Linked DNA regions of Homo sapiens. The protein of the gene in region 1 purifies or fractionates together with the protein of each later gene. This does not show direct contact. Each region holds a gene or a part of one and is shown on either strand. Other genes may lie near its edges. The genes, in order: DPF2, SMARCE1, HDAC2, TPI1, MRPL45, PKMYT1 and HNRNPAB.

What was found.
Region 2: the proteins of DPF2 (region 1) and SMARCE1 purify together in Homo sapiens (affinity purification with mass spectrometry; 11 studies listed by BioGRID and IntAct, with this or other methods). This does not show direct contact.
Region 3: the proteins of DPF2 (region 1) and HDAC2 purify together in Homo sapiens (affinity purification with mass spectrometry; 2 studies listed by BioGRID, with this or other methods). This does not show direct contact.
Region 4: the proteins of DPF2 (region 1) and TPI1 purify together in Homo sapiens (affinity purification with mass spectrometry, with the first as the bait; one large-scale study listed by BioGRID). This does not show direct contact.
Region 5: the proteins of DPF2 (region 1) and MRPL45 purify together in Homo sapiens (affinity purification with mass spectrometry, with the first as the bait; one large-scale study listed by BioGRID). This does not show direct contact.
Region 6: the proteins of DPF2 (region 1) and PKMYT1 purify together in Homo sapiens (affinity purification with mass spectrometry, with the first as the bait; one large-scale study listed by BioGRID). This does not show direct contact.
Region 7: the proteins of DPF2 (region 1) and HNRNPAB purify together in Homo sapiens (affinity purification with mass spectrometry, with the first as the bait; one large-scale study listed by BioGRID). This does not show direct contact.

Annotation. Positions count from the first base shown.
Region 1 is NC_000011.10:65,343,821-65,347,597, forward strand, and holds part of DPF2 (zinc finger protein ubi-d4), read left to right. Parts: coding exon 1-17; intron 18-170; coding exon 171-249; intron 250-759; coding exon of another isoform or gene 760-801; intron 802-1,845; coding exon 1,846-1,983; intron 1,984-2,109; coding exon 2,110-2,238; intron 2,239-2,426; coding exon 2,427-2,539; intron 2,540-3,777. UniProt on the Homo sapiens protein: Plays an active role in transcriptional regulation by binding modified histones H3 and H4. Is a negative regulator of myeloid differentiation of hematopoietic progenitor cells. Might also have a role in the development and maturation of lymphoid cells.
Region 2 is NC_000017.11:40,637,566-40,641,342, reverse strand, and holds part of SMARCE1 (SWI/SNF-related matrix-associated actin-dependent regulator of chromatin subfamily E member 1), read left to right. Parts: intron 1-3,770; coding exon 3,771-3,777. UniProt on the Homo sapiens protein: Involved in transcriptional activation and repression of select genes by chromatin remodeling (alteration of DNA-nucleosome topology).
Region 3 is NC_000006.12:113,957,457-113,961,233, reverse strand, and holds part of HDAC2 (histone deacetylase 2), read left to right. Parts: intron 1-1,215; coding exon 1,216-1,328; intron 1,329-2,467; coding exon 2,468-2,585; intron 2,586-3,777. UniProt on the Homo sapiens protein: Histone deacetylase that catalyzes the deacetylation of lysine residues on the N-terminal part of the core histones (H2A, H2B, H3 and H4).
Region 4 is NC_000012.12:6,866,231-6,870,475, forward strand, and holds the start of TPI1 (triosephosphate isomerase), read left to right. Parts: upstream 1-1,336; coding exon 1,337-1,451; intron 1,452-1,874; exon of another isoform or gene 1,875-2,279; intron 2,280-2,633; coding exon 2,634-2,757; intron 2,758-2,868; coding exon 2,869-2,953; intron 2,954-3,027; coding exon 3,028-3,160; intron 3,161-3,457; coding exon 3,458-3,543; intron 3,544-3,818; coding exon 3,819-3,906; intron 3,907-4,034; coding exon 4,035-4,153; 3' UTR 4,154-4,245. UniProt on the Homo sapiens protein: Triosephosphate isomerase is an extremely efficient metabolic enzyme that catalyzes the interconversion between dihydroxyacetone phosphate (DHAP) and D-glyceraldehyde-3-phosphate (G3P) in glycolysis and gluconeogenesis.
Region 5 is NC_000017.11:38,314,066-38,317,842, reverse strand, and holds part of MRPL45 (large ribosomal subunit protein mL45), read right to left. Parts: intron 1-3,777.
Region 6 is NC_000016.10:2,977,499-2,981,788, forward strand, and holds the start of PKMYT1 (membrane-associated tyrosine- and threonine-specific cdc2-inhibitory kinase), read right to left. Parts: upstream 2,949-4,290; 5' UTR 2,788-2,948; exon of another isoform or gene 2,721-2,787; intron 2,496-2,720; exon of another isoform or gene 2,415-2,495; 5' UTR 2,160-2,414; coding exon 2,150-2,159; exon of another isoform or gene 1-2,149. UniProt on the Homo sapiens protein: Acts as a negative regulator of entry into mitosis (G2 to M transition) by phosphorylation of the CDK1 kinase specifically when CDK1 is complexed to cyclins. Mediates phosphorylation of CDK1 predominantly on 'Thr-14'. Also involved in Golgi fragmentation.
Region 7 is NC_000005.10:178,207,506-178,211,677, forward strand, and holds the end of HNRNPAB (heterogeneous nuclear ribonucleoprotein A/B), read left to right. Parts: exon of another isoform or gene 1-776; intron 777-965; exon of another isoform or gene 966-1,410; intron 1,411-1,824; coding exon 1,825-1,942; intron 1,943-2,626; coding exon 2,627-2,767; intron 2,768-3,047; coding exon 3,048-3,118; 3' UTR 3,119-3,658; downstream 3,659-4,172. UniProt on the Homo sapiens protein: Binds single-stranded RNA. Has a high affinity for G-rich and U-rich regions of hnRNA. Also binds to APOB mRNA transcripts around the RNA editing site.

The DNA.
Region 1 (3,777 bases):
GAAAGGGGAAATCCAAGGTGAGGGGCCAGCGTGCTGCCTGCATCTTGGGACAGGGTGGCCTAGGGAATTCCTTATTTTATTTCAAGTGAGATTAGCGGCCACTTCCAAAAGAGTCTAACTCCTCAGGCCCAGCTACCAAAATAAGGGTGTCTCTTTGCTCTTCTTGGCAGGGTAAGGGTGTGGGCAGTGCCCGTAAGAAGCTGGATGCTTCCATCCTGGAGGACCGGGATAAGCCCTATGCCTGTGACAGTGAGTGCCTCACAAGTGGGTGGGTAGACCTTGCCTTGGACCCAGCTCCTGCTCTGGATATGAGAGGAGGGAGGGTTGTGTTTTTGCCCAGAGTATTAAAACAAACCTGGGCTCTTGTCCTGCCTGCTGACTGCTTCCGTCTGAGACCCCTGGGAGGCCTGGGTCCCTGCTATATGACGGGTGGGACCTGCATGCTCTGGGAAAGATTTCTGCCATCCTCTGGGGTAGGGTTGCTTGTGGGGGCCACAGCAGGCAGGGTTGGCCTCTCAACAGATGGCCTGCAGGTCTCCTGGCCTCAGTTAAGCCAGGGCCCCAGGGGTCTGACACTGAGTTTTTCAACGTCTGTTCTCTTTTTCTTTCTGTCTGCCTTGCCCCACTTCTGTCCCTCCACCCTGGGAGCACCATCGCCGCTGGGGTTTCTCTCTCGTTTGCTCTGCTTTCCTGCTGCTGCTGCTCCTGTCTCAAGTGTATCAAGGCCTTCTTCTCATGACTTTTCTTTCTGTCTTTCAGATAGTTTCAAACAAAAGCATACCTCGAAAGCGCCCCAGAGAGGTAGCTCTCTCAACTTTTCAGACTTGTGGTTTTCCTTTCCCTTTTTCCCTCTTCCCTTGTTCCTCCTGCCTTTCTCATTTCCTGGGATGCTAGCTTTAAAATCTCTGGAATGGCATGGGGGTAGGAGCAGTGGAATTTCTGCTGTGCTCTACTCCTCAAAGTCCTGAAGGCTGCCTTTACCACTGCTTGTTTCCCACAAACCTGCTCCTAGAGCTGCTCGGCCCAGTGCATGGGGTGGCTTCAGAAGCATTATCAGGAGCCCATTACAATCAGACCCTTCCGCTCCCTCCCCAGACCAGGCAGCTGGTGGTCAGCTCATGTTCCCCACTGCCCCACCACCTCCTCCTGCCATCCTCTCTCCCCACTCCTTTCCTGCTGGCCCCCTTGCCCTTCTTGGTATTACTTCTCAAGATGACAAAATGCCTCATGGGGATCTGCTTTCCTTGCTGATTGGCAGGCCTGGACAGGGCAATTACATGGGAGTGTGCTTGAATTTCTTTGGGGACCAACTGCCCAACTGGCTTCATTGATAGGCTATCCCCAAGAAACCCATCCCCTGCTTGTTTACCCACATTCAGGGGAGATGGGCTCCATGGTGTGTGGGGTAGCATGAGCCTCCCACATTTACTGAGGGGTAAAAAAGTTTGGAGTCTTATCCACTTTTCCCCCTTCCTGCCACCCCAAAGATATAGGAATATCCTTCCCTTTCCTGACCTGGAGCGTCCCAGACTGTTAGTATATCCCAGAGCAACTAACTGGTGATGGGGCAAGGGCTAAGCCCCCCAAAAGTCAACATGGAAGAGCAGTGGTGGCCATGGGGTTGGAGTTCAGGAGGGAAAAGAGCCCCAGAAGCTAGAGAGCCCCACGGCCTGATGCTCCTGGCTGAGGGGAAGTGGCCGTCACTCAAGGCCTGTCCCAGAGTGGAGCTGCTAGGGGAAGGGATGGTTGCCCTCTGCCTCAGGTGGAGCCCCCACAGCTTGCAGGGATGGGGACATGGCACTCTTGTATCCTAACACCTTTCTCTGCAATCTTCTTCCCACTCAGTTTGTGGAAAACGTTACAAGAACCGACCAGGCCTCAGTTACCACTATGCCCACTCCCACTTGGCTGAGGAGGAGGGCGAGGACAAGGAAGACTCTCAACCACCCACTCCTGTTTCCCAGAGGTCTGAGGAGCAGAAATGTAAGCTGAGGTGTCAGAAGTGGTGGGCAAGCAGAAGTTGGCCTGGTTATGAAAACCACTCCTTGCATGGGTGTTGAGTGGCTCAGGGACCCCCATGGGTGTCATCAAAACTCTTTCTCTCTGTAGCCAAAAAGGGTCCTGATGGATTGGCCTTGCCCAACAACTACTGTGACTTCTGCCTGGGGGACTCAAAGATTAACAAGAAGACGGGACAACCCGAGGAGCTGGTGTCCTGTTCTGACTGTGGCCGCTCAGGTACTGCTTCCCGTGAAGGCTGCTGCTTTGCCCAGTCCCCAAGGGGCTCTTGGCTTGCTGGCCTCTAGGGCTGTCATAACCAGCCCACCTCGCTTTTCCTAACCAAGAGAAGATGTAGCCACAGGCAGGAGCTCCTCTCTTCCCCCCGCATTTCCGACTGTCTGTCTCACTCACTTCCCCCACTACAGGGCATCCATCTTGCCTCCAATTTACCCCCGTGATGATGGCGGCAGTGAAGACATACCGCTGGCAGTGCATCGAGTGCAAATGTTGCAATATCTGCGGCACCTCCGAGAATGACGTGTGTATCCCCGCCCCCTCCTCAGCATGGCTCCTTCTGGGCTTTTACTGCTGTTTGCACAGTTCCCTCTAAAGTGAGCTTTCTTTTAAAAAGGGAGCAGGATCCCTCCCACATGCCACACGCCCCTCCCTAGCATCTCAGTCAGAACTCTGATTTGTTGCCAGATATATATTGAGTGCTGATTTTATGTCAGACACTGTTCTAGTCACTAAAGATGCTAAAGACAAACAAGGTCCCTGCCTCATGAGATTTACATTCTTACAGGAACAACAATAAGCAAGGATGTAAATGAGATTTGTATAATGTGCCATGAAAAAAACGAAATCAGTACTGTGGCAGAGAATAATTGCATAAGTGATTTATTTTGATGGTCAGGTATGGCTCTTCTGGGAGGGTGATGCTGGTGTTGAAATTTTGGTGATACCAAGGAGCCAGTCAAGATTTGGAGGTAGAGGAATCCCAGGAAAGGAGCAGCCAGCGCCAAGGCCTTATGTTGGACAAGCCAGATGACAGGGCATGGGAGAGTATGGTGGGCAATGAGATGAGAGAGGCAAGCACTGCCAGATCTCTGGGGCCTCGGGTTTTATTCTAGGTACAACAGGACACTGTTGAAGGGTTTTACTCGGGAAGTGACATGGTTATTTATGTATTTATTTATTTACTTTTTTTTTTTGAGATGGAGTCTTGCTCTGTCGCCCAGGCTGGAGTACAGTGGCACAATCTCAGCTCACTGCAACCTCTGCCTCCTGGGTTCAAGTGATTCTCCTGCCTCAGCCTCCCAAGTAGCTGGGATTACAGACACGTGCCACCACACCCGGCTAATTTTGTATTTTTAGTAGAGATGGGGTTTCTCCATGTTTGCCAGGCTGGTATCGAACTCCTGACCTCCGGTGATCCGCCTGCCTCAGCCTCCCAAAGTGCTGGGATTATAGGCGTGAGCCACTGCACCCAGCTATTTATTTATTCTTTATGTATTTATTTATTTATTTTGAGACAGAGTCTCTCTGTCATCCAGGCTGGAGTGCAGTGACGCGATCTTAGCTCACTAAAACCTTTCCCTTCAGGCTCAAGCAGTACAATCCTCCCACCTCAGCCTCCCGGGTAGCTGGGACCACAGATGCACACCACCATGTCTGGCTACTTTTTTATATTTTTGGTAGAGACAGGGTCTTGCCATATTGCTGAGCTGGTCTCAAACTCCTGAGCTCAAGCAGTCCTCCCACCTTGGCCTCTCAAAG
Region 2 (3,777 bases), on another chromosome or scaffold:
ATGCATATTTCATGGTATCTGAAAAAGAATTCTGACAAAGTGTGTGTATGTATGCATTTCACAATGCATACAATTTTTATGTGCATCAATACATGTTTTTCCCTGGCCTAAACATGTTGTTTCACAAGTGTAATGGATGGCAAGGTTTTCAAATGATAAAGAACATTTCAGTTTAAACAATGAACGGAATCAATCATGGATCTTAATGTTAATGCAGCAATTTTTTCACGGGCAGTAAACAAGAATGATTGCATTTAATAGCTCTATACAGTCACCTCTTGATTATCTATGTTAATGGAATAGAAATGATAACTATAATATTACAGTAATTTGTCTTTTGGTTTTGTGTAAGTATTTTGCTCTTAACTTGGATGTAGCTGTGGGGGATTCTCAGTTAAAAAAGTGAGATTGTTCGATGGAGACTAGGAAGAGAAAGTGTACTCCCTATCTGAAGTCACTCATCTGTTTCTTCCCATTCCTTCTTGGCGAATGTTAAGAACTGAACATTTGGCGTGGACACTAGCTACATAGTAGATTAATTATAGAGAGTTGTTGGACATGGAAAATTTGGTGTTTTGGTCCTTTGTGGACATTTACTTTGTATTATTGTCCTCTTAACACCAAATTGAAGTATAATCAAACTGCTATATGAAGAAGGGCCTAGAAAATGTGGAGGTTTTACACTACTTGCCCTGCTTTCTATATCTAGTTTAAGCTGTTAGGACTCAATGGCTCTGATTTTGACCATAATAAAAGCATTTTGATTTTACTATGACCCTAGTTATGCATTACTTTTGGGGGTGAGGGGAAGCTCCTGTATGGTATTGTTGTGCGCAGATTGCATTAGTGGTTTTCAAGGAACGAATCTGTGAAGCCCTGTCCAGTAGCTTGTGGTAGGCTGTAGAGAACATTGGGTTTCCCTGATGACTCCAGTATACTTGGGTAGTTCTCAGACAGTAAATACTTTGTATAGCATGTCGAGACCTTTTGGAGTGCTTATGATAGCTACAAGATGGAATTCACTCCTAGTCAGTTCTTCATTCAGATGATGATTAACATTCTCTTAAGTACAGGTGTGAAAACACATTGAGACAAAAATGTCTTTAAAAACAGCCTATTTCTGTACATTAATAGAAATTCTGCCCCAGAAGAAAGCTCTTAAATAAGTTCTTGCTAGAGAAACAGCTGAGAATTGCAAAAGAAACAACAACAAAAAACTGAGTAACCAAGATAAATTTCACAAAACCATGAACTTTATTCATAGGAGATTTCCTAGGACCTTGCTCTTCTGTAAGCACAGTTCTACCCGCCTCCCCATTGGAAATTGAAAGCAGAAAATTGGAAAGAGAGTTGCTGCTAGAGGTGGGTTTCCTGATAGTAGCAAGGAAAGAAACAGTTCAAAAATGGAAACACATTCTCCAAAAGCATAGCCCCTAGGCCGTTGAAAGAGTCAACAACAGATTTTGACATCTGACAGAGGGTTACAGCACAGCAAAACAGTGGTTGTTTCTAATTGAATCTTATCCAGAAAGGGTCTAAAGTATGTTCAGCTTTTTTTAAAGAAATGTTTAAGACATTGTAGAAAGATGTCTGTCTGAGACGTTAAATAAATTGGAGGTGTGTAATGATATAAATCTTTACTATCCTGAAAACCATCTGGAATTTAACTTTATTATTGTTTTGGGGTGTTTTTTTAGTTTGGGTTTTTGTTGTTGTTGTTGTAAGTTGACTGGTCTCAATATACAGATGATTTGTGTACCTTTCTTTGGGAGAAAGGAGGGGAAATAGCAATTCCATTAATATAAAATGTGATTCTTTGAAAAATATCAAAGAGCAAATACTACTGTGTTTTTAAAGTGTTTTAATTCATATTAAAGCTCGGAAGCATAGGCATTTTAGAATTCTTTACCTCTTTAATTTCAAAAAATTTTGACAGTGGTCTTACCACCTCAGTTATGGGCACAATTCCAACTTTATTTGTAATCCATTTCATGGAATTCTGAAGGTTTGTGTTGGATATGAGTTGGAAATACTTTCTAGTAACTTTATGTGTGAAGAAGCAGACTTGTGTGTGTCTGTTCCTCTGAATCCATAAGGTTAGTCTTATAGGAATTCTCTTTCCCCTTGAAAGAACTATAGACCCTGATACAGGTTTCCCTGTATTGGCTGCCCATCCTACCACTTTTGACAGTTTCCATGCCCCTGGCCATCTCACTCTCTTACCCACTGCTGGCCAAAAACAGTGTCTGTCTACCTGGGCACTAGCATGAGGTGTGACAAGAATGCATGGGAGGAATGGAAAGAGAGGAAATACTGCTTCCAAGGCGAAATGCTTTGAAGAAGTAGAGTTATAGGGATGGAGAGAGACCCTTGTAGGAAGAGGAAACATTTCTTGATCATAGTGGAAAAGGACACAAACATGCTAATCCCTGAGCCCTCAAATGAAAAATAAGGTTATGATTGGGGTCCCAGCCCAGAGTGGAGGAGTATCTCTGGGGTTTTATCATAGCAACAACAGAAGGGGAAGCGAACAAAATGTTACTTTAGTTTTCCTATAAGGATTTGCCAATCCTGTCTTTCGATAATTAAAATAAAGCCAACACTTCATTTCTCCAGCCTAGCAGGGAGAGTCAATATCAGAGATCTCCTGAAAATTTGCAAATTGTCTGAAATAGCAATGATTTTTCTTATTCTGGGTCTTTAATCAAATGCAGTCATGTATATTAACAGGAGACTAAAAAGTTCAGAAATAGATACTTTTAGATGGGTGTTATCTGGGTGGTCTACCAGAGGCTGTCTGGAATCTCACCTAGACTTTAAGCCACAGGAAAAACTGATCACTTTATCTTTCTCTTTCCTTCTTTTTTTATTTTTTCTTTCACCTATTTTTGCTTTACCTTTTTAAAAAATATTTTTCAGTCTTCCCTCCGCCTCCTTTTCTTCTGTCTCTCTTTTCCTGTACATCACATCTTTCCTTTTCCTCTGTCTTTCCCATAAAACTGAACATTTTTAATGGAATGGAGCTTCTTGATATAAGACCTCAAAAATAACGTAATCAGGCCCGATATCTGCCACTTCTCTGTTCCTGATAAACTTGTTTGCTTTTACACTGTGATTAGGACTCAGGACAAAACAATGTGTGACTTTTAATTCACACTTCTCATTCCCCTTTACAAGAAAACCACTAGGTAACAGACAGAACCTTAAGAGAAATAAAATCTCTAGCCTGGCAAAGGAGGTAAGGTGGTTTGTTATTTCACTAATTGTTTTTGTTTTTGAACCTGGGAAGTTGTTTTTGTGGTGGTGTTGGGAGTACATTCCTAGTGCTAATAGGTTAAGGCCCCTGTAGACAGTGTGAGAATGGTAAGTGTTAAGGGTTCAGATCCTGCTGCAGATAATCAAGTGTTGACTGTATGTGTAATGGTAATTGAGCAGAATAAGAGGGTACCAGGTAATGTCCTGAACTTGAGACGGTTGATATATAACCATATATTTTCAATGTATGGGTTACTGTGTAATATTTTATTTGTTCTTGCAGCCAGGTTGTCAAAGCATTGGCAATAAACTGCTAAGTAAAACATTTAAAAATTATGTGCTTAAAGTCATTTTCTTTTGAACATTTCTGAATTTGCAGTGATAGCTATTTTCAGTGAAGAAAATATTTGGACGAATAGAAGAAAGGCGCATTAGAATTTTTTAAGGGACTCTCTTTTCAGTTTGCCAGTGAACTCCTTACAGTTGAATAATGAATGTATTTAACTCTTTCGTAGGCATCCT
Region 3 (3,777 bases), on another chromosome or scaffold:
AGGACTTTGAAAGATTTAGTGGATAAATTGCATTTTTTATTCTAGCTTTTATTGTAATATATAAACCCGTGTTGAAATGATAGACTTCAAACCATTAAAATAGCTTGACTGTCCTGACCCTGTGGGGAATTAGTTCCAAGACTTCCACAGATAGCAAAATTCATGGGTGTTTAAGTTCCTTCAATAAACTGGTATAGTATTTGCATATAACCTATGTATATCTCCCCTTACACTTTAAGTCATCTCTAGATTACTCATAATACCTAATACAATGCAAATGCAGTGTAAATAGTTGTTACACTGTATGATTTAGGGGAAGATTACAAGGAAAAAAAGTCTCTACGTGTTTCCAGCAGACACCACCATCTATTTTTTAAAAATATTTTCAGTCTGCAGTTGATTGAATCCACAGATACAGAGGGTTGACTTTATATATTTGAGAGGCTTCTTGTTATTTACTATTATAGGAAACACTGGAGCTTTACCTAAAAGTATTAATTTTATTGAAATTTAGTTGATGAAAATCTGTGATTTTGTTATTTTCTCTTTTTTAAATCTTATGCATAAGTTTAAAGACATTGTGATATAAGATGCCGTTTAAAAAGACAGGCTAGGAATTACAACTTTTTAGTCATGAAGAATGAGACAGTATTTTTATTACCTTGAAAAATGTAATGCTGTGTCTTAGTGGAGCAAAACCTCATTTAGGACCTAAATTTCAGTTACCAAAACTTCCCTGATGGGCTTTAATATGGACACGGTATGTTTTAACATGCAAAACGCCAATTATGAGATTTCTGAAATGCCAGCAAATCATCCAAAAAGCAGTATTTGCTGAAAAAATTTTAAATCATACCAATAAAACTCAGAGAACTTAAAAGCATGTGAATTTGCCAGAGAATACAGAAAGCAGGCATCATTTCAAGGAACAGAAATTTTAAAAATTGGGGGTAGCTAAAAATCAGAAAAGCTTGCTTTCCTTAATCTACAAATAAATATAATGTGTAATAATGGAGTCTTCAGCTGGTAAAAGTGTGCGTAGCGTCTTAGTCATCTGATACAGTTTGAAAGTTGCAAAATAAATCTAAGTTGCTAAGGTTTTAAATAAATTTTGTTAAGTAGTAAATGCCTTCTAATGATAGACATACATAAATTCAAATAGTTCATGGAGGGTCTCTTGTCTGTATTGTTTAGTTTGTGTCTTTTCTATTTTAGGTGATATTGGAAATTATTATTATGGACAGGGTCATCCCATGAAGCCTCATAGAATCCGCATGACCCATAACTTGCTGTTAAATTATGGCTTATACAGAAAAATGGAAATATATGTGAGTATTCCTTTTAATACATATTCAGCACTGATCTTTTTTATTTTTTTTTAGCTACTGTGAAACTTTGTCTATTATTCCCCTTTTGAGGGCATTTAGCAGATGAAAAGATCTGGAAGAAAACAAACTTCTTTTTTCGTTTATTCTTAGGAGATGAATAAGAATGAGAGCTATACCCTCTTTTTCCTTTTCCTTTAACCATTTAAAAAAGTTCCCCCTACCCTAGGCTTTCATGGTTCTGGAGAACAACTCAGTATAGCAACAACTCAGTGTAGCATATTAAGTATTTTTTTTTTTTTTTTTTTTTTTACAATAATTGTTAATCTGCCTGTGCTGCTGAAAAGAGTTGACCTGGGACTGTTACAAAATAATAACACATAAAATTAATCCCACAAATATTTGCAGGGCATATAATACATATGGAATACTGTGTTAGTGTGGCCAAGCATAGTACAGATAACACAAGTGCAACAGCTGCCTTAATGTTTTTGTAGATAAAGATGAGGGTATGTATAAACAAATACAGACACGACAATTAGCTATTTGGGGAGAAAAGAAATATTTAAAACAATTAATGCTAGGCAATATATGTGAATATGTGAATTATTTTCAGTTACATGTAGACATTTAGAGAAGAGGGGAAGTTAGAATAAGACTCAGTCTGGAAGTCTTGTGGAAGAATTGTGTCATACGTGAAATTGAGCTCTTCGGAACAAGGAAGATTAGGATAGAAAAAAGGACGAGAGGTCGTGAACAAAGATTTAGAATTGAAAACTCTTGTAGTGAGTGATTTCATTGATGAAATCACTGGATGTTTTATCATGGAAAAGGAGAGAAAGTAGAGTTTATGAACATATGGATTTGACTTTTTACTCGAACTGTTTCCACTAAAATAAGGAGTGATTAAATCATAGTTGATATGCCTGTGTAATGCTTTTAAAGGAGTTTGAATTAGTTTTGAGATTGATTACTGTTTTCTAAAACACATATAAGTTTGGGTTAGTTTTGGAATTTATATATTTTGTTCTGGTAGACTTGGTTCTTTTGAGGGGACCGATAGGGGAATTTGTATATTTGTTTGATAATACTGATATAACCGGTTGTAATTCCACAGTTCTGACATTTATTTCTCTTCACAGAGGCCCCATAAAGCCACTGCCGAAGAAATGACAAAATATCACAGTGATGAGTATATCAAATTTCTACGGTCAATAAGACCAGATAACATGTCTGAGTATAGTAAGCAGATGCAGAGATGTACGTTTCTAAGTAAAAAGTAGTTTTGCTTTGATAAATGTAAATTAGTATTTTTAGGAGCTTAGAATGATCTAAATCTGAATATTTTTCCTGTTGGTCTAATATGTTACAGTTATTTACTGATTTGAAAAGTCATTTTAACACTACTAAAGCTACTTAAGAAAAAAGTAAACCTATCTGAAGCTTATTGGTTTGCAAAACTGCTGTTTGGGTATTCTTCTACTCCTAGTTTGCTCCCCTGATAACTTTGGGTTAATACATATTGGTAGGGAGACCTCACTCCCTTACTCCCTCGCTTCAAAAAAACAAAAACAAGATTACACTTTGATTAGCCTTAGCTTGGCATGTACATATCTCTTGTCTTGTCTTTGTGTACTTCAGTTAACCTGGACTATAATACACATCTCTTTTTCTTTGTTAAGATATTAGTGAAGCTTTTGATTCTACGTAATGTTCTCTTGTACAGGTTAAAAGTATTTTATTTTTAGAGATTAGTAACAAATTGGCTTGAAGGTAGAATGCAAAAGTCAACCTAAAATTATTGGAACAGTATCTTTTAAAGCTTGATACCAAAGTTCATTCTCATTAGTGTTTGTATTGACTGACTTCAGTGATGATTATACTAAATTAGTGTAGGTGCTAGACATCTCATATTTACAACCTCATACACATTTCTGCCATATCTTGTTTGATTTGTTATAATGCTACAATGTAACTAGAACATGTAGTATTTAATTTTTTTTTTTTCAATGAAGATTCCAACTTAGATGCAAAAGAGGCATGAGTAGCCCTTGGGCAAACAACATAACAGGATTGATTTAAAACCCACATAATAATGAGTTCTATTAAGCTTATGATCCTGGCCAGGTGTGGTGGCTCACGCCTGTAATCCCAGCACTTTGGGAGGCGGAGGTGAGTGGATTACCTGAGGTCAGGAGTTCGAAACCAGCCTGGCCAACATGGCAAAACCCTGTCTCTATTAAAAAAGTACAGAAAATTAGCTGGGTGTGGTGGTGCGCGCCTGTAATCCCACTACTCTGTAGGCTGAGACAGGAGAATTGCTTGCTTGAGCCCCAGAGGTGGAGGTTGCAGTGAGCCAAGCTCACGCCATTGCACTCCAGCCTGGGCGACAGAGTGAGACTCTGTCTCCAAAAAAAAAAAAAGATTATGATCTCTCTGTGCAGTAAGAAAC
Region 4 (4,245 bases), on another chromosome or scaffold:
TGGGCAGAGCAGAGGGGCAGCGATAGACTCTGGGGATGGAGCAGGACGGGGACGGGAGGGGCCGGCCACCTGTCTGTAAGGAGACTTTGTTGCTTCCCCTGCCCCCGGAATCCACAGTGCTCTGCTTCTCTGTGTCGCCCCGCCCAGCCCCCTGGTGTGGAGGGAGGGGTCTCGTTTGTGCGCGTGGGTGTAGCTTTGTGCATCCTCTCCCAGTGGAGCGATCACCTGTGCCTCCCCTCCCCCTTTGTTTGCCCCTGTGTGGTTGGTCAAGGAGGGATGTGAGGGAAATAGGGACCCCCCGACTTGCCCTCCTGCCTCAGTCTTTCCCCCACCCTGTCTCTTCCTTGTCCTTCTCTGGAAAATGCCAAAATACACGATGTGAATAAAAGTACAACGGCTAAATTGTGTCCTGTTTGATACCTTGGGGGAGAGGCTTACCTTCCTGGGGTTAGCAGGAGGGCGCTTAAGAAAACTCCTAACTCTGGCCGCCTCCCTGCCAAAGTCAAGTCTCCACTTTTCACTGGTTCTAGAGCTCTAGGAAAATTGGGGTTGGGTGGGGAGGTGGAGTAGAGTGACTAAATGCCGACACAAAGCCAAGGAAAGATGGAGTGAAGAACCCTTCCCTCTCTTTATTCACACAGGAGTGGAGGATTTCCCAAATGTCCCTAACTGGCTAGCTGGCTTCAGGCTGGGACTCAGTCCCTGCAGTTCCTGCCAGGCCTTGCCAGCCGGGGCGAGGGTTGGGATGATCCTGGCGGCCTATGCCTGTGTGGGCTGCCCCTCCCGCTGTGAACCCTGCATTTGTCCCGCAAGTTTTCACTCAGGTAGACTCCCTGGGTACAAGGGTGCCTGCTCAGCAGTCGGGCATGAGCTGCTCCGATGGGCGAAGGAGGTTGTCTATCCCACAGTTGGAGAGGGGCCCTCTCTGCCCCAGTGGGCGATCTGGGCTACGGCCAAGTTGCCACCAGCTAGTTCCGCTTGAAAACCACTTCTGGCCCCGTGGGGGACTCAAGTCGCCAAGCGAGGGTTCCCCTGAGCGCCGGAGCTCACAGGTCTCGCCTTGTCCCGAAAGCCCCGCAATCGAGGCGGAGGCGACCGAGCCCCCGACTCTCCTAGAACGTTGCCACAAGAAGGGGGAACGTCGGAACAGTGCATCATCGGGCGGCGGCCGGGGCGGCGGCAGGAGGGCGGGCGGGGGGCAGGGCTCCGGGGGACTGGGCGGGCCATGGCGGAGGACGGCGAGGAGGCGGAGTTCCACTTCGCGGCGCTCTATATAAGTGGGCAGTGGCCGCGACTGCGCGCAGACACTGACCTTCAGCGCCTCGGCTCCAGCGCCATGGCGCCCTCCAGGAAGTTCTTCGTTGGGGGAAACTGGAAGATGAACGGGCGGAAGCAGAGTCTGGGGGAGCTCATCGGCACTCTGAACGCGGCCAAGGTGCCGGCCGACACCGGTAAGCCCTCGCCGAGGAGGGGTCTGGCCGGGCCGGGGCCGGGGCCGGGGCAGGAGTGGCAGCGCCCTCTCCCGAGGCCCCGAGGCCCCGAGGCCGGTATCCGCGCGGACCTGATGCAGGGCTGTGGGACGAGGGCCGCTGGGGTCCGGGCAGGGGCCTCGCAGCCGCAGCCCCGTCGGTGCGTCGAGGGGGCAGGGCGGAGCACATGATGCCCCTTGGACTATGGGGCAGGTAAGGACGTTTTGGGTCTCCTGGAGGAAGGTGGCCCCGGGGCGCGCACTGGGGCTGTGCCCGCCAGGCGACGGGGTTAGGAGCGGAGCCCGAGGCTCTGCGGGAGACCGGGGGAGGCTGGGCCGCGTGGGCTTCCCGCTCCCTGCGCCCTGGCCTCCCGCGCCGTGCGCCGCCGCACGTAGCCCCAGACTCCTCCCCTTCCTCGCCGGCGTCCGCGTCCCCGCGCCGAGCTGCTCGGGCTCCCTGAGCCCCAGATCTGACCCCTTCCCTTCGGCAACCTGAACGACTCCCGCCTTCCACGGAAGGGACCGAGCCCGTGCCAAACAGGCTGAGCGATTTGGGAGTGAGGAGCCATCCTACCGCTTTCCCCAACCTGGAAACAGCAAAGCGCAAGGCCTCTGAGTCAGTTAGGTCTCTGCCACCCACGGGCAAAGGATGCTCTCCTCCATCCTCCTTCCTCCCTCCACCGAAATCGGAGAGCCGCGGGCCTGATCCAAAGAGGCATCCCCTTCTCGTTCATTCCCCAGAGGCCTCAATACAAACCCCAGGAGTTGGCCCCTCTCCTTTTGCTACAAATCCTTGCCTTGCAAAGGGGAGGTGAGGATGGGCTATTTTAGAAGGGAAGCAGGGTTGCTCCCTGGAGAATGCTGAGTCTGTGAGGTGCCTATGCCGAGAATAGCTCGAGGAAATTGGAGCCCCAGCTGTTAAAAGAGCAGAGGGCAGGGTGAGGGCCGTGGCCTCTCAGGGGTATCTGGAAGGCTCTTCGAGTTGAGTGCAGACCCAGCCTGGGCTGGAAAATGGACAAAGGTCATCTTGCTGGGGTGAAAAGGGGGAGAGCAGAACCAAGAAGAAGAGGGTGAGGGCTGGGGGGCTCCAGGGCACTGGTTAGGAATTGTGGGGAATGAAGGCTTTCTTTAGTCTCATCCCCCTGTGGTACCATCTTGTCCTCAGAGGTGGTTTGTGCTCCCCCTACTGCCTATATCGACTTCGCCCGGCAGAAGCTAGATCCCAAGATTGCTGTGGCTGCGCAGAACTGCTACAAAGTGACTAATGGGGCTTTTACTGGGGAGATCAGGTGAGATCGAGGTGGAGAGGGGTGTGTGGGACCCTTCCCTCACTTTCCTCGTTGAGGGGAAAGCCACAGGGTGGGCTCCCTGCTGAACCTTGGCTTCATCTCTTCCTTTAGCCCTGGCATGATCAAAGACTGCGGAGCCACGTGGGTGGTCCTGGGGCACTCAGAGAGAAGGCATGTCTTTGGGGAGTCAGATGAGGTTAGTAGCCAAGAGAGAAGATAAGGGATGTCTTTTTCCAAGAAGGATGTCTCACCAAGTCTGTTTCTCAACAGCTGATTGGGCAGAAAGTGGCCCATGCTCTGGCAGAGGGACTCGGAGTAATCGCCTGCATTGGGGAGAAGCTAGATGAAAGGGAAGCTGGCATCACTGAGAAGGTTGTTTTCGAGCAGACAAAGGTCATCGCAGGTATCTCTGGAGAAAGGGACCTTTGAGCCTATCCAGGGCCACAGAGACTCAGAGGGTAGGGTCAGGCCCTGGAGCCTGTCTTGGTCCCCATGCTGATCCAGAAAAGGAAAAAGGGGAGGGGGAGTGACAATCTTTGCTTGGGGCCTATGACTTCTCCAGCCCCAAGGTAGATGCCACCTGGAAATCCCCCAATGTCCACTAGGGGGCAGTAGGCCACCGTTCTTCGTACTCCGGAGAACCTGGCTGGAGAGCTCTTTCTTGTTCACCCTTCCCTCCATCTGTATCTCTGCCCTGCAGATAACGTGAAGGACTGGAGCAAGGTCGTCCTGGCCTATGAGCCTGTGTGGGCCATTGGTACTGGCAAGACTGCAACACCCCAACAGGTAACCGGGCCCAGGAGCCCTGCCCTCATCCCAGCCTGCCTCAATAGGTTTGGACAGACACAGCCCACATGGGGCAACCCCTTATTTCAAAGACACAGAGACCTTGAACCCAGAGACAGTGACTTGTCCAAGGGCATCCAGTCCAGGGCCTGGCTTGGATCAGAGCCCTGGTACTCTGACTCAGTCAGAAACCACACTAAGTGTCCACTGGTGCCAGTGATTTTTCCTCTTAGAGAGGCAGAAAAGGTCTTACTTAGGCCAGCTTCTTGTTCTAGGCCCAGGAAGTACACGAGAAGCTCCGAGGATGGCTGAAGTCCAACGTCTCTGATGCGGTGGCTCAGAGCACCCGTATCATTTATGGAGGTGAGTGGCTTTGGTTCCCGGCTGAGGTGGAGTGGGCTGAGGACTAGACTGAGCCCTCGGACATGGAGGTGGGGATGGGGCAGACTCATCCCATTCTTGACCAAGCCCTTGTTCTGCTCCCTTCCCAGGCTCTGTGACTGGGGCAACCTGCAAGGAGCTGGCCAGCCAGCCTGATGTGGATGGCTTCCTTGTGGGTGGTGCTTCCCTCAAGCCCGAATTCGTGGACATCATCAATGCCAAACAATGAGCCCCATCCATCTTCCCTACCCTTCCTGCCAAGCCAGGGACTAAGCAGCCCAGAAGCCCAGTAACTGCCCTTTCCCTGCATATGCTTCTGAT
Region 5 (3,777 bases), on another chromosome or scaffold:
CCAGCATTTTGGGAGGCCGAGGCGGGTGGATCATGAGGTCAGGAGATCGAGACCGTCATGGCTAACAAGGTGAAACCCCATCTCTACTAAAAATACAAAAAAAATTAGCCGAGAGTAGTAGCAGGCGCCTGTAGTCCCAGCTACTCAGGAGGCTAAGGCAGGAGAATGGCATGAACCCGGGAGGCGGAGGTTGCGGTGAGCTGAGATCACGCCACTGCACTCTAGCCTGAGTGACAGAGCGAGATTCCGTCTCAAAAAAAAACAAAACAAAACAAAAAAAACACAAAACAGACAACAAACCCTAGCTCCTATAGATACAAGATTTTAGGAGGGTTCCTAGCTGATGAGTCTCAAACCTAAGGCCATAGATTAGCTTCTTTCAGATACACACGACTTTTCCCCAGTTTACTATGAGCAGTTTAACTCTTTGTCCCCTTTGAAAAATCTTGCTCTCTAAGCCCAGAATGGGTAAGGGATTAGTTCTAACATGTCTATCTGCTTCCCTTTCATCTCTATTCCTAATAGGAAAGATTCCAAGTCATTTCCTCTACTGTAGGAACAGACTGAGCTGTGGTGACAACTACCATGATGACCATCACTGGCACCTCTGAGTGAACTCTTCCTCCCCACTATCCTGGCATAGAAGTCTTCAGTGGAAATAAACTCCATTTTCCATGAGTTCACTTACTATTTTGCAATAATGTAATACTACTTCTACTATAAACATTTAGAAATGGTGGATTTATGGGCCGGGTGCGGTGGCTCATGCCTGTAATCCCAGCACTTTGGGAGGCCAAGGTGGGCAGATCACGAGGTCAGGAGATCAAGACCATCCTGGCCAACATGGTGAAACCCTGTCCCTACTAAAAATACAAAAATTAGCCAGGTACAGTGGCACACACCTGGAGTCTCAGCTATTCAGGAGGCTGAGGCAGGAGAATCGCTTGAACCTGGGAGGTGGAGGTTGCAGTGAGCCAAGATCGCGCCACTGCACTCCAGCCTGGCAACAGAGCAAGACTCCGTCTCAAAAAAAAAGGAAATGTTGGATAAAATGTAAAACAGACAAATACACTTTTGCTTTTTTTTTTTTTTTTTTTTTTTTTTTGGATTGCACCACTGCCCTCCAGCCTGGGCTACAGAGTGAGATTCTGGGACTACAGGTGCACGCCACCACACCCAGCTTTTTTTGTATTTTTAGTAGAGTTGGGGTTTCACCATGTTGGCCAGGCTGGTCTCGAACTCCTGGACTCAAGTGATCTGCCCGCCTCGGCCTCCCAAAGTACTGGATTATAGGCATGAGCCACCACACCTGACCAAAAAATAATTTGACAGAAACCACCCCTAAGGAAACCCAGACATTGTAATTATTAGTAAAGACACAAATCAATTGTCCTAAATATGTCCAATGAGCTAAAGGAAACCATGGACAAAGAAGTAATGAAATCAGAAAAACAATGTGTGAACACATTGGAGACAGAAATTATACAAGGGAACCAAACAGAAATTCTGGAGCTAAAAAGTACAATAAATTTTAAAATTCACTAGAGGGGTTCAACAGCAGGTTTGAGCAGGCAAAGTATCAGTGAACTTGAGGATAAGGTAATTAAAATTACATAGTCTAAAATGCAAAGAGAAAAAATAATGGAAAAAAAATGAACAAAACCTTGAGGGACCTGTGGGACATCATCAAGTATACCAAATACACATCATAGGAGTCCCAGAAAAAGAAGAAAGAAATGGATAGAAAAAAAATTTGAAGAAATAATGCGGCCAGGCACAATGGCTCATACCTGTAATCCCAGCACTTTGGGAGGCCAAGGTGGGTGGATCACCTGAGGTCAGGAGTTCGAGACCAGCCTGGTCAACAGGGTGAAACCCTATCTTTACTAAAAAATACAAAAATTAGCCAGGTGTGGGTGGCAAGTGCCTGTAATCCCAGCTACTTGGGAGACTGAGGCAGGAGAATCACTTGAACCTGGGAGGCGGAGGCTGCAATGAGCCGAGATCGGGCCACTGCACTCCAGCCTGGGAAACAAGAGTAAAGCTCCATCTCAAAAAATAAAATAAAATAAAAATAACATGCAAAAAAAAAAAAAGAAAGAAAAAGAAATAATGGCTGCAGACATCCCAAATCTGATGAAAGACATTCATATGTACATCCAGGAAGCTCAAAAACCTCCTAGCAAGATAAACTGAAAGAAATTCATACCAAGAAACATTAAAACCAAAGTGTCAAAACCCAAACACAAAGAATGAATCTTGAAAGTGGCAATAGGCTGGGCACAGCAGCTCATGCCTATAATCCCAACACATTGGGAGGCAGAGGCAAGAGGATCACTTGAGGCCAGGAGTTCGAGACCAGCCTGGGCAACAAAGCGAGACCCCTGTCTCTACAAAAAAATTAGAAAAAAAAAAAAAAAATTAGCCAGGTGCTGTGGCACACACCTGTAGTCCCAGCTACTCAGGGGCTGAGGTGGGAAGATCGCTTGAGCCCAGCAGGTTGAGGCTGCAGTGCAGCTATCATTGCACCACTGTGCTCACTCCAGCCTGGCTGAAAAAGTGAGACCCTGACTTTAAAATAAAAAAGAAACAAACAAAGGCTAAAGGGGATCCTTCAGGCTAAAATGAAAGGACACCAGAAAGTAACTCAAAACCACAAGAAAAAAACAAAAAACATGTATGTTTTACTACTATGTAGGAAAAGTAACTACATAGATAAATATAAAAGCCTGTATTACTGTACTTTTGGTTTATAATTCCTCATTTTTCATCCTGTATGATTTAAAAGGCAAATGCATAAAACAATAATTATGAATTGATGTAATGGGCACCCAAGGTATAAAACTGTAATCTGTGATAATGAAGCAGGAGAGACATAATGAAGTGGGAGGGAGAGACATATAGGAGCAGAGCGTTTGTATATTATTGAAACTAAGTTGATATTATTCAAACTAGGTTGAACTAGCCACCACGCCTGGCTGTGTTTCTCTATTTCTGCAAAAACCACTGTTGAGGACAGGCGGTGGCCCATGCCTGTAATCCCAACGCTTTGGGAGGTCAAGGCGGGTGGATCATCTGAGGTCAGGAGTTTGAGACCGGCCTGGCCACTTAATGGGAAAGCACAGTCTCTTCAATAAATGGTGCTAGAAAAATGAATATTCTCATGCAAAAAAAAGCAAAAACATCACATAGTTTTCACTATATACAAAAACTAACTCAAAATGGAGCAAAGACCTAAATGTGAGAGCTAAAACTATAAAAATCTTAGAGAAAAAGGAAGGGGAAATACTTCATGACACTGGATTTGGCAATGATTTCTTGAATATGACACCAAAAGAAAAAACTCGATATGGTAACAAAAGAAAAAAACTTGAAAAACTGGATTTCATCAAAATTTAAAACTTTTTTGCATCAAAGGATACTATCAAGAGTGAAAAGACGGCAGGCGCAGTGGCTCACGCCTGTAATCCCAGCACTTTGGGAGGCCGAGGCAGGTGGATCACCCGAGGTCGGGAATTCAAGACCAGCCTGTCCAACATGGTGAAACCCTGTCTCTACTAAAAATACAAAATTAGCCAGGCATGGTGGCGCATGCCTGTAATCTGAGCTACTCAGGAGGCTGAGGCAGGAGAATTGCTTGAACCCAGGAGGCAGAGGTTGCGGTGAGCCGAGATCACGCCATTGCACTCCAGCCTGGGCTTCAAGAGCAAAACTCCATCTCAAAAACTAATAATAATAAAAGAGTGAAAAGACAAACCATAAAATGGGGGGAAATAT
Region 6 (4,290 bases), on another chromosome or scaffold:
TAGTGGTGTCCACTTCCAGAATGGCAGTGTGTGCAGCTCCGTGGACCCCTGCCCCAGTGAAACAGCACAACTGATGACGATTATTCAAAAGCAAGCACTGAAAGCCTCTGGGCATGGTGCCCAGGGCACACAGCAAACAAAGGTTTACACAAGAAAACCTGCCAAGGCCTGGGAATAATGGCAAGCCTGTTGGCACCTGAGCCATGACACTCCTGCCCTCCCACCTCCAGCACCCCTCTCCCCCCGCCTAGCACTGGGGGCAGGTGTGGCCAAGAAGAAGGGCTCCCTCTCCCCCAGCTCCCCGTCAAGGGTTAGGGTGTTTGCCCAGGAGGGCCAGGTTCTCAGCACTTCTCAACCCTCCCAGCTCCACATGGCAGAGGCTAAATTCCAGCTGAGTGTGGCAGACAGGCCAGGGGCTCCTTTCTTCCACCTGCCCCCAAGCATAGAATAGAGGCTATATCTCAGGCCCGGCAGGCTGGGAACATGGAGCCCCAGCTCATTTGTAGGAAGGAGGCTCCACACTGGGAGAGGGCAACCAAGAAGGCCAGAGGCTCCTGCCCAACCCAGCGACCTGCTCCTAAAGCAATAGCAGCACTCAGAGAGGTGCCCCGCTGTCCTGCCCCCAGTTCCACAGCATGGCTCAGACAGAGATTTAGCCTAGGGGTAGACGTAGGTCATAAATAGAGCTCTCCCCACCCACCAACCCCCTGAAAATTGGCTTGATTTGAAACAGTGCGTAGGGAAGTTCAAGTTTAAAGGGGCTGTCAAAATCAGTGGAAGTTTTGGTGGTGCGCCATTAAGAAGAGACTGGTACCCGCATTAGGGCAACCAGCTGAACCATAGGCCAGCTAGTTTACCACAGAGAAGTGGAGAAAGAGCTAGCTAGGAAGAGCCTGCCTGCTGTCAGAACAAACCTCACTGACCTCAAAAGCCACCCTGTCAAAGGAGCTCAAAATTAATTGGATCTGGCCAGGCACAGTGGCTCATGCCTGTAATCCCAGCATTTTAGGAGGCTGAGGTGAGTAAATCACCTGAGGTGAGGAGTTCGAGTCCAGCCTGGCCAACATGGTGAAACCCCATCTCTACTAAAAATACAAAAATTAGCTGGGTGTGGTGGTGCATGCCTGTAGTCCCAGCTACTCGGGAGGCTGAGGCAGGGGAATTGCTTGAACCTGGGAGGCAGAGATTACAGTGAGCCAAGATCATGCCACTGCACTCCAGCCTGGGCAACAGAGCGAGACTCTGTCTCAAAAAAAAAAAAAAATTTAATTGGATTGGACCGTGGAACACTTTATGCCCCAAGGTATTGTTTGTTTGTTTGTTTTTGAGACAGGGTCTCACTCTGTTGCCCAGGCTGGAGTGCAGTGGTATGATCTCGGCCCACTGCAGCCTCCGACTCCCAGGTTCAAGTAATTCTCTTGCCTCAGCCTCCTGAGTAGCTGGGATTACAGGCGTGTGCCAACACACTAGAATAATTTTTATATTTTTAGTAGAGATGTGGTTTCACCATGTTGGTGAGGCTGGTGCACCAAAGTATTATAAAAAACAATAGAGCGGCTGGGTGTGGTGGCTCACGCCTGTAATCCCAGCACTTCGGGAGGCAAGGTGGGTGGATCACTTGAGGTCAAGACTTCGAGACCAGCCTGGCCTACATGGTGAAACCCCATCTCTACTAAAGATACAAATTTTTGCCGGGCGTGCTGGTGCATGCCTGTAGTCCCAGCTACTCAGAGGCTGAGGCAGGAGAAATGCTTGAACCCAGGAGGTGGAAGTTGCGGTGAGCCGAGATTGCGGCATTGCACTCCAACTGGGCGACAAGAGCAAAACTCCATCTCAAAAAAATATACATAATAGTAAATAAAAAATTAAAAAGAGCAGTCTCCAGTACCTGAGGGAGTACAGGGGTGAGGGGAGCGATGCTACCTGGGCCTGGCTGGCAGGCTGCCCTCCATCTTGTGGAGACTCTTCCTCTGACTCTAACTACCTCAGAGTCCCAGCCCAGGGTTTCTCCAAGTCAGGAGCCAGGGTGTTGGGATCCTGGAGGTCACTGGTCACAAGCACAGCCTCCAGGCCCAACCCTGGCACACTCGGGGACCTGGGCCTGTGCATCTTAACCCAGTTCTCCCACCGTCCCTGCCCTACGACTTACGTTCTAGCATGACTGGCCTGGCCCAACAGCCTCAGTGGTGGGACGGGGGAGGCAGGAGCAGGGGCTCCCACGTGAATCCAGGGTGTCCCTGAGCTAAGGCCAGGCGGGGGTGACCTCCGCAGCTTCCGGGGCCCTGGGCGATCGGGCCGTCTCGCCTCACCCTCTCACCAGGCCCGACACATCTGCTGGCCACCTTTCCCGGTAGACGGTAAGTTCCTCCCAGGCAGGGCCGCGGCTGACTTCACTCCGTGGGTGTGGGGAAGCCCTGGCGAACAGAGCAGTGGACGGGCTGTCACGAGGGAAGAGGGGCTGTTGCAGAAGAAGAGAGGCTGTCCCGGGGCAGGGGCTGTCACGGAGGAAGGACTGTCACGGGGAGGGCGGCGGCGCGGGGTTGATGGACAGCAGGCGGGGTCTCCGGGAGGGGCGAGTAGGGCGGGACCGCCGCTGGGAAGGGGCTCGAGGCAAGGGAACCAGGAATTGGGGAGGACGGGAGGCAGGGGCTCGCGGGGGCGGGCCTGAGGGGACGCGAGCGGGCCGCCGGGGAGGCCTGAGGGGCAGGGGTAACGCAGACCTGGCGAGGCGGAGGGGAGCGGCGAGGTGGCCACGCCGAGGCCCCTCACGGCGGGGTCTGGGCTCACCTGGGGCGACTGGGCGGGGCGCGGGTCCGCGAGGGCCCAGATTCCGGGTCCGCGGAGGCCACGGGACCCCTCGGGTGGCTCAGCGGGCCGGAGTCTGCCGTCGACTGTTCCGGACGCCCGGGCGGAGGACTCCCGTGAGGGGGAACGGCCCGTGAACGCGCGCGGAGCTGCTCGCGCCAAAAATTCCAAACCGGCCTCGAGGCTCCTCCCCCTCCCCAGTGCAGCCCGTCAGGGGTGCCCGGGCTCCGAGGCTCCGCCCCTCGTGCTGCGTGCGCGCCGCCGAGCCGCCCCGCCGCTCACTGCGCAGGCGCACAGGATTCTCCGCGCTGGCCCGGGGCGTGGGTGGCGGCCTGGTTCTGAGTCGCTGCGCGGGGCTTCAGCCGCCCAGTCCCTGGGACGCCCACTGCCCTCCAGGCCTCGCACCCGACACCCACCGCCCTCGCTGGGCTGGCGTAGTGTTTGGGTCCATAAAAGGGACCGCCATCCCGGTGCTCGGAGCAGGCGTAGCCCCAGGGTTACTCCGGGTAGGACCAGGAAGTCCCTACGGCCTCCTGGGTCCCGGCACCCCCCTTCTCACTCCGGCCGTGTTCTGAACCAGGGTCGCGGTGGGAGGCCAGACGCACGACCCCCAACCCCTAGCGCACGGCTTCGGGAGCCAGAAAAAGCCGCCTCTTCCAGGAAGCTCTCCAGATAGGCAGGACTCTGCTTGGCCTGACCTCGCCTGCCTGCAGCTTCCCTGCCAACAGGCCTCAGATACTTTTTTTTTTTTTTTTAGACAGGGTCTCACTGTCACCAAGGCTGGAATGCAGTGGTGCAGTCCCCAGGTTCAGGCGGTTCTCCCAACCTCAGCCTGCCGAGTATGTGAGATCACAGGCGCGCGCCACCGCACTCGGCTCATGTATTTTATTTTTAGACAGGGTCTCATTCTGTTGTCCAGGCTGGAGTGCAGTGGGGCGATCTCGACTCACTGTAACTTCCGCCTCCCCCGCTCAAGCGTTCCTCCCACCTCAGCCTCCTGAGTAGCTGGGACCACAGGCGCGCGCCACCACACCCAACTAATTTTTGCATTTTTTTGTAGAGACGGTGTTTTACCATGTTGGCCAAGCTAGTGTCGAACTTCTGACCTCAAGCGATCCGCCCGCCTCGGCCTCCCAGAAGGCTGGGATTACAGGCGTGAGCCACCGCGATTGGCCGCAGGATCATAGTTCACTGCAGCCTCGAGCAGCCACTTCCGGGGCAGCTCCTCCATTCTCTGAGTTTGAGACTTGCTCTCAGCTCAGATCCCTTCAGCGCTCTCCTGGCTGAACGACCTTGGGAATGCACTGAGCCTTTCTGAGCTTCGGATTAGTCTCCTCTCCTGGAAAAAAAAAAACAGCTGAGGACGCTGGGATGATCCCCTAAAGTGATTAGCAGGGGCCCTCGCGGAGCAAGTCGGGCTAGGGATTGTTCCTTCCCTCACCGAGGGGCTCTTTATCTGTTTAACTGGGTGGGAGGAGTACGCTT
Region 7 (4,172 bases), on another chromosome or scaffold:
AAGCTAGAGGTGACAGTTCTAGATTCTTGAGTCCAGGGGTATGAAGCCTGCAGTTTAAGGTCTCAGAAGATCCTAGAACTTCTGCAACTCACTGATTCTCCTCTGTGGTGAAGTTTTTCTTATTCCAGAGCCTTTCTACCTCCTTCTACAACCAAGTCTTTGTCCACTTCCATCCACTTTGAGCACTTTTTTTTTTTTTTTTTTTTTTTTGCTTTGAGACAGAGTCTTGCTTTGTTGTCCAGGCTGGGGTGCGGTAACACAATCATGGCTCACTGCAACCTTGACCTCATGGGCGGACCGGATCCTCCCATCTCAGCCTCTCGAGTAGCTGGGACCACAGGCATGTACCACCATGCCTGGCTCATATGTTTTTTTAAAGCCTGGTCTCACCATGTTGCCTGGGCTCAAGCCATCCTCTGCCTTGGCCTTGTAAAGTGTTGGGATTACAGGCATGAACTGCCTCACTTGGTCTTCTGGGCACCTCTTTAAGTTAACCCTAAACCCAGGCAAAAATCCTTCCAAAGATCTCCCAGGGTCCTGGCCAGCTTAAATCCAGGGTCAGTTGTGCTTTCAAATGAGTGGATTCATGTGCAGGGAGGTGTAGCTCTTCCCCTCCTGAACTCTGGTCAGGGAAAGGGTAGTTCAGGCTTCAAGTTGGCAGTTGGGAGTTGAGGGTGCGGCCTGCAGTGGCAGGGTGTGGCAGGTTCTGTTTCTGAGCAGGAGTTGGCAGCCAGATAAGGTGGGACAGGTGGAACTCCTGGAAGTCTCTATCCTGGCTGGGAGTTTGGAAAGAGTGGATTAGGATAGTCTTAAATTTTCTATAAAATGACAGTCTTTGAGGCAGTTAGGGGAAGCAGTGGTTATTACTCCAGTGGACAGTGATAGAGGCCTTTTTCTCTATGTGCCATAATGGGAAATGGGTGGGAAGAGCCTCTAAGGCAGAGTTTAAGTGAAACTACTGGTAGTGAGTCTTAGGAGTAAGTATATTTAGTTGGTTATATTCAGTATTTTTAATTTAGTAGGATAGAATATATCAGATTGCATTATTTTAATTTGCCAATTAAAAGTATGACTGGGACACTGTAAAATGTACTATTTTTAATGGGTGTGCATGTCAGGATTTTCTTTAGAAATACACTGGTCTGGTCTAATTTATTTAAGCAGGAGCACTTTAAAGTATCCCACCCTACCCCATTCCACCCCCAGTGGACAGAAAGGAAATTGACTGACTTGAGGGGATGCAGACATCTGGGTTATTCCAACAGACCAGTGGTTAGGAGGAGGGGGTGGGTAGCATTATGGCCTCGGGCAGGCCCCCCCACCCTGAGCCTCTGAAAGCTGACTTTATCTGTAAGAGGGAGGTCAGGCTCGCCTTCTCAATAGCGTGTATTTGGATGAGATGAGTTTCTTCTGTAAAGAGAAAAAGATGTTAAAACCTCATTGTCTAAGGCCCCTCATCTGAGAAGTCTTGTCTGACCCTCTAGCCCAGCAGGACCAAGGTGTGGTGCCTGGTCCCAGCCTGTCCTCTGCTCCCCTGGGCTGCAGTTGGCCCAGTTGCCTGCCTCCATTAGATACGGAGTTGCTCTGGGGCTGAGATGCCCATCTCAAGTGCATTCTGTCGGAAGGGTTCTCTGCTGGAAGGCCTTTGGTTTTAGTTGGGATTCCATGAGCTTTAGCCCAAAGGTGGCCTCCCATACTAGCATATTTTGTTTCTCAGCAAATGGACCTGATCCACCATTTGATGTTTGTCGCAGTGAAGGTGTTTGGGCAGTCACTGCCCTGAGTTTGTCCTACTGGCCTGACCACTGTCCTCTTGACTTTTAGTGTGAGATCAAGGTGGCCCAGCCCAAAGAAGTCTATCAGCAGCAGCAGTATGGCTCTGGGGGCCGTGGAAACCGCAACCGAGGGAACCGAGGCAGCGGAGGTGGTGGTGGAGGTGGAGGTGAGTGGAACGTGGATGAAGATAGGTCCTGTTTCCCTGCCTACATGGAGCCTTCCAAGCCTGTCTTGGGGCTCCCTCTGGTGCTGTGCAGCAGGGGTGGGCAGATTGTGTGAGGTTGGGGACGAACAGGAATAGGAACGGCTCTGGGTCAGGGCTGTATGCTTGAGGCTGTTGCCTGCTGCTGCCCCTTGGAATGGCTTGGGTGCCCAGGGCAGAGAGAGCATTTGTGTTACACTCTGGGGGAGGGGATGTGATGGGTGTCTTGGCTTTGTGGATGTCCTGAGTCTGGTACACCTGTGAGCAGGTAGGCAGAAGGGTGGGTAGGGCAGAGCTGTGCCAGGCATTTATCCCCTTCCATCCCAGGCCCCTCTGACTCCAAAGCCTGAACTGCATCTTTTTAAAGGCTAAGCTGCCAAGGAGAGTGGGAGTGATCAGAGAGTGACTGAGTGAGTGAGCTGCCTTGTTTGCCCCAAGTAAAGTTAGCATCCTGGTCTCTGATCCTCTGCTTGGGTCTCTCAGATGCAGGGTTGGGCCCAGGGCCCTTATACACCAGAACAGCAGCCCCTTGGCTTCTGCCTGAGTTGCCACAGTAACCCTGCCACCCCAAAGGGCAGGATTTCCTCCATCCTAGCTCCTGCGTATGCTAAATGGTCCACGGGCCCCTGTGCCCTGCTCCCCCCACAGGTCAGAGTCAGAGTTGGAATCAGGGCTACGGCAACTACTGGAACCAGGGCTACGGCTACCAGCAGGGCTACGGGCCTGGCTATGGCGGCTACGACTACTCGCCCTATGGCTATTACGGCTACGGCCCCGGCTACGACTACAGTAAGTAGGAGAGAGGGAGGCCCCATCCGCTCACCCCTCGTCCCCAGGGGAGGCAGGACAGTGTAGGAGCCACTGGCAGCAGGGGCTTTGGAGTCAGACAGGCCTGGCTCAGCCATGGGAGCTACTTGATTTTGAGCCTTAGACTTCGGGGTCTTAATAACATGAGGAAGGCAGTCTCTGCTGTCACGGCTGGTGAGGGTCCTGGGAAGATGCATATCAAGCGCGTGGCACAGGGCAAATGCTTGTAAATAGTAGCTGCTATGGTTGTTCTCGTCCCTAGGTCAGGGTAGTACAAACTACGGCAAGAGCCAGCGACGTGGTGGCCATCAGAATAACTACAAGCCATACTGAGGCGGCAGCAGGAGCGACCAACTGATCGCACACATGCTTTGTTTGGATATGGAGTGAACACAATTATGTACCAAATTTAACTTGGCAAACTTTCTATTGCCTGTCCCATGTGCATCTTATTTAAAATTTCCCCCATGGAAATCACTCTCCTGTTGACTATTTCCAGAGCTCTAGGTGTTTAGGCAGCGTGTGGTGTCTGAGAGGCCATAGCGCCATCATGGGCTGATTTTTATTACCAGGTCCCCCAGAAGCAGGTGGGAGGCTCTGCTTCCTGCTGCCGCTCTGCAGCCTGGACCTGTGGACCCTGGTTGTAAAGAGTAAATTGTATCTTAGGAAACCAGTGTCACCTTTTTTTCACCTTTTAATTTTATATTATTTGCGTCATACATTTCCTGTAACGGAAGTGTTAATTTTACTGTACTTTTTGGTACCTTTTGGGAATCTAATGTATTGTAAGGTATTTTACACGTGTCCTGATTTTGCCACAACCTGGATATTGAAGCTATCCAAGCTTTTGAAATAAAATTTAAAAACCCCCAAGCCTGGGTGAGTGTGGGATATGCTGTGTGAGACCTCTTGCTCAGGGTCGAGGGAGGCGGGGGGGGGGTGCCAGGTGCCCTGGACTTGGGGCTTTCTCCTGCAGCAGGCTCTTCCAGCTGCAGGCCCAGTTGTGGGGGTATCCTTTAAGGACTGCCCTGCCTAGGGCTGAGCCCCCCTTCAAAGAAAGGAATGAGAGGCCTATGGGGAGTGAGGATGGGGCAGTGATGAGGGCTTACATCCCCAGCAGGCATGTCCCCTCCTGGGACACCTTGGAACACCAACCTTCTTGGCTGATGAATGAAAAAATGGGATTCTTTACACACTAGGGCAGTGCCAGGGCCGTCTGAATTGGGGCACAATAGTGCTCCTCCTGGCTGGTGAAGAAAAGCCTGCTCTGGCAGGGGATGTTTATTGGCTGGATTGGAGCCCAACTCCAGGTCTGGTATTTAGGGCATAAGACTAGGTGGTTACAAGAGGCAAGGGTGGGTTGGGGTTCCACGTGGATACAGCCCCA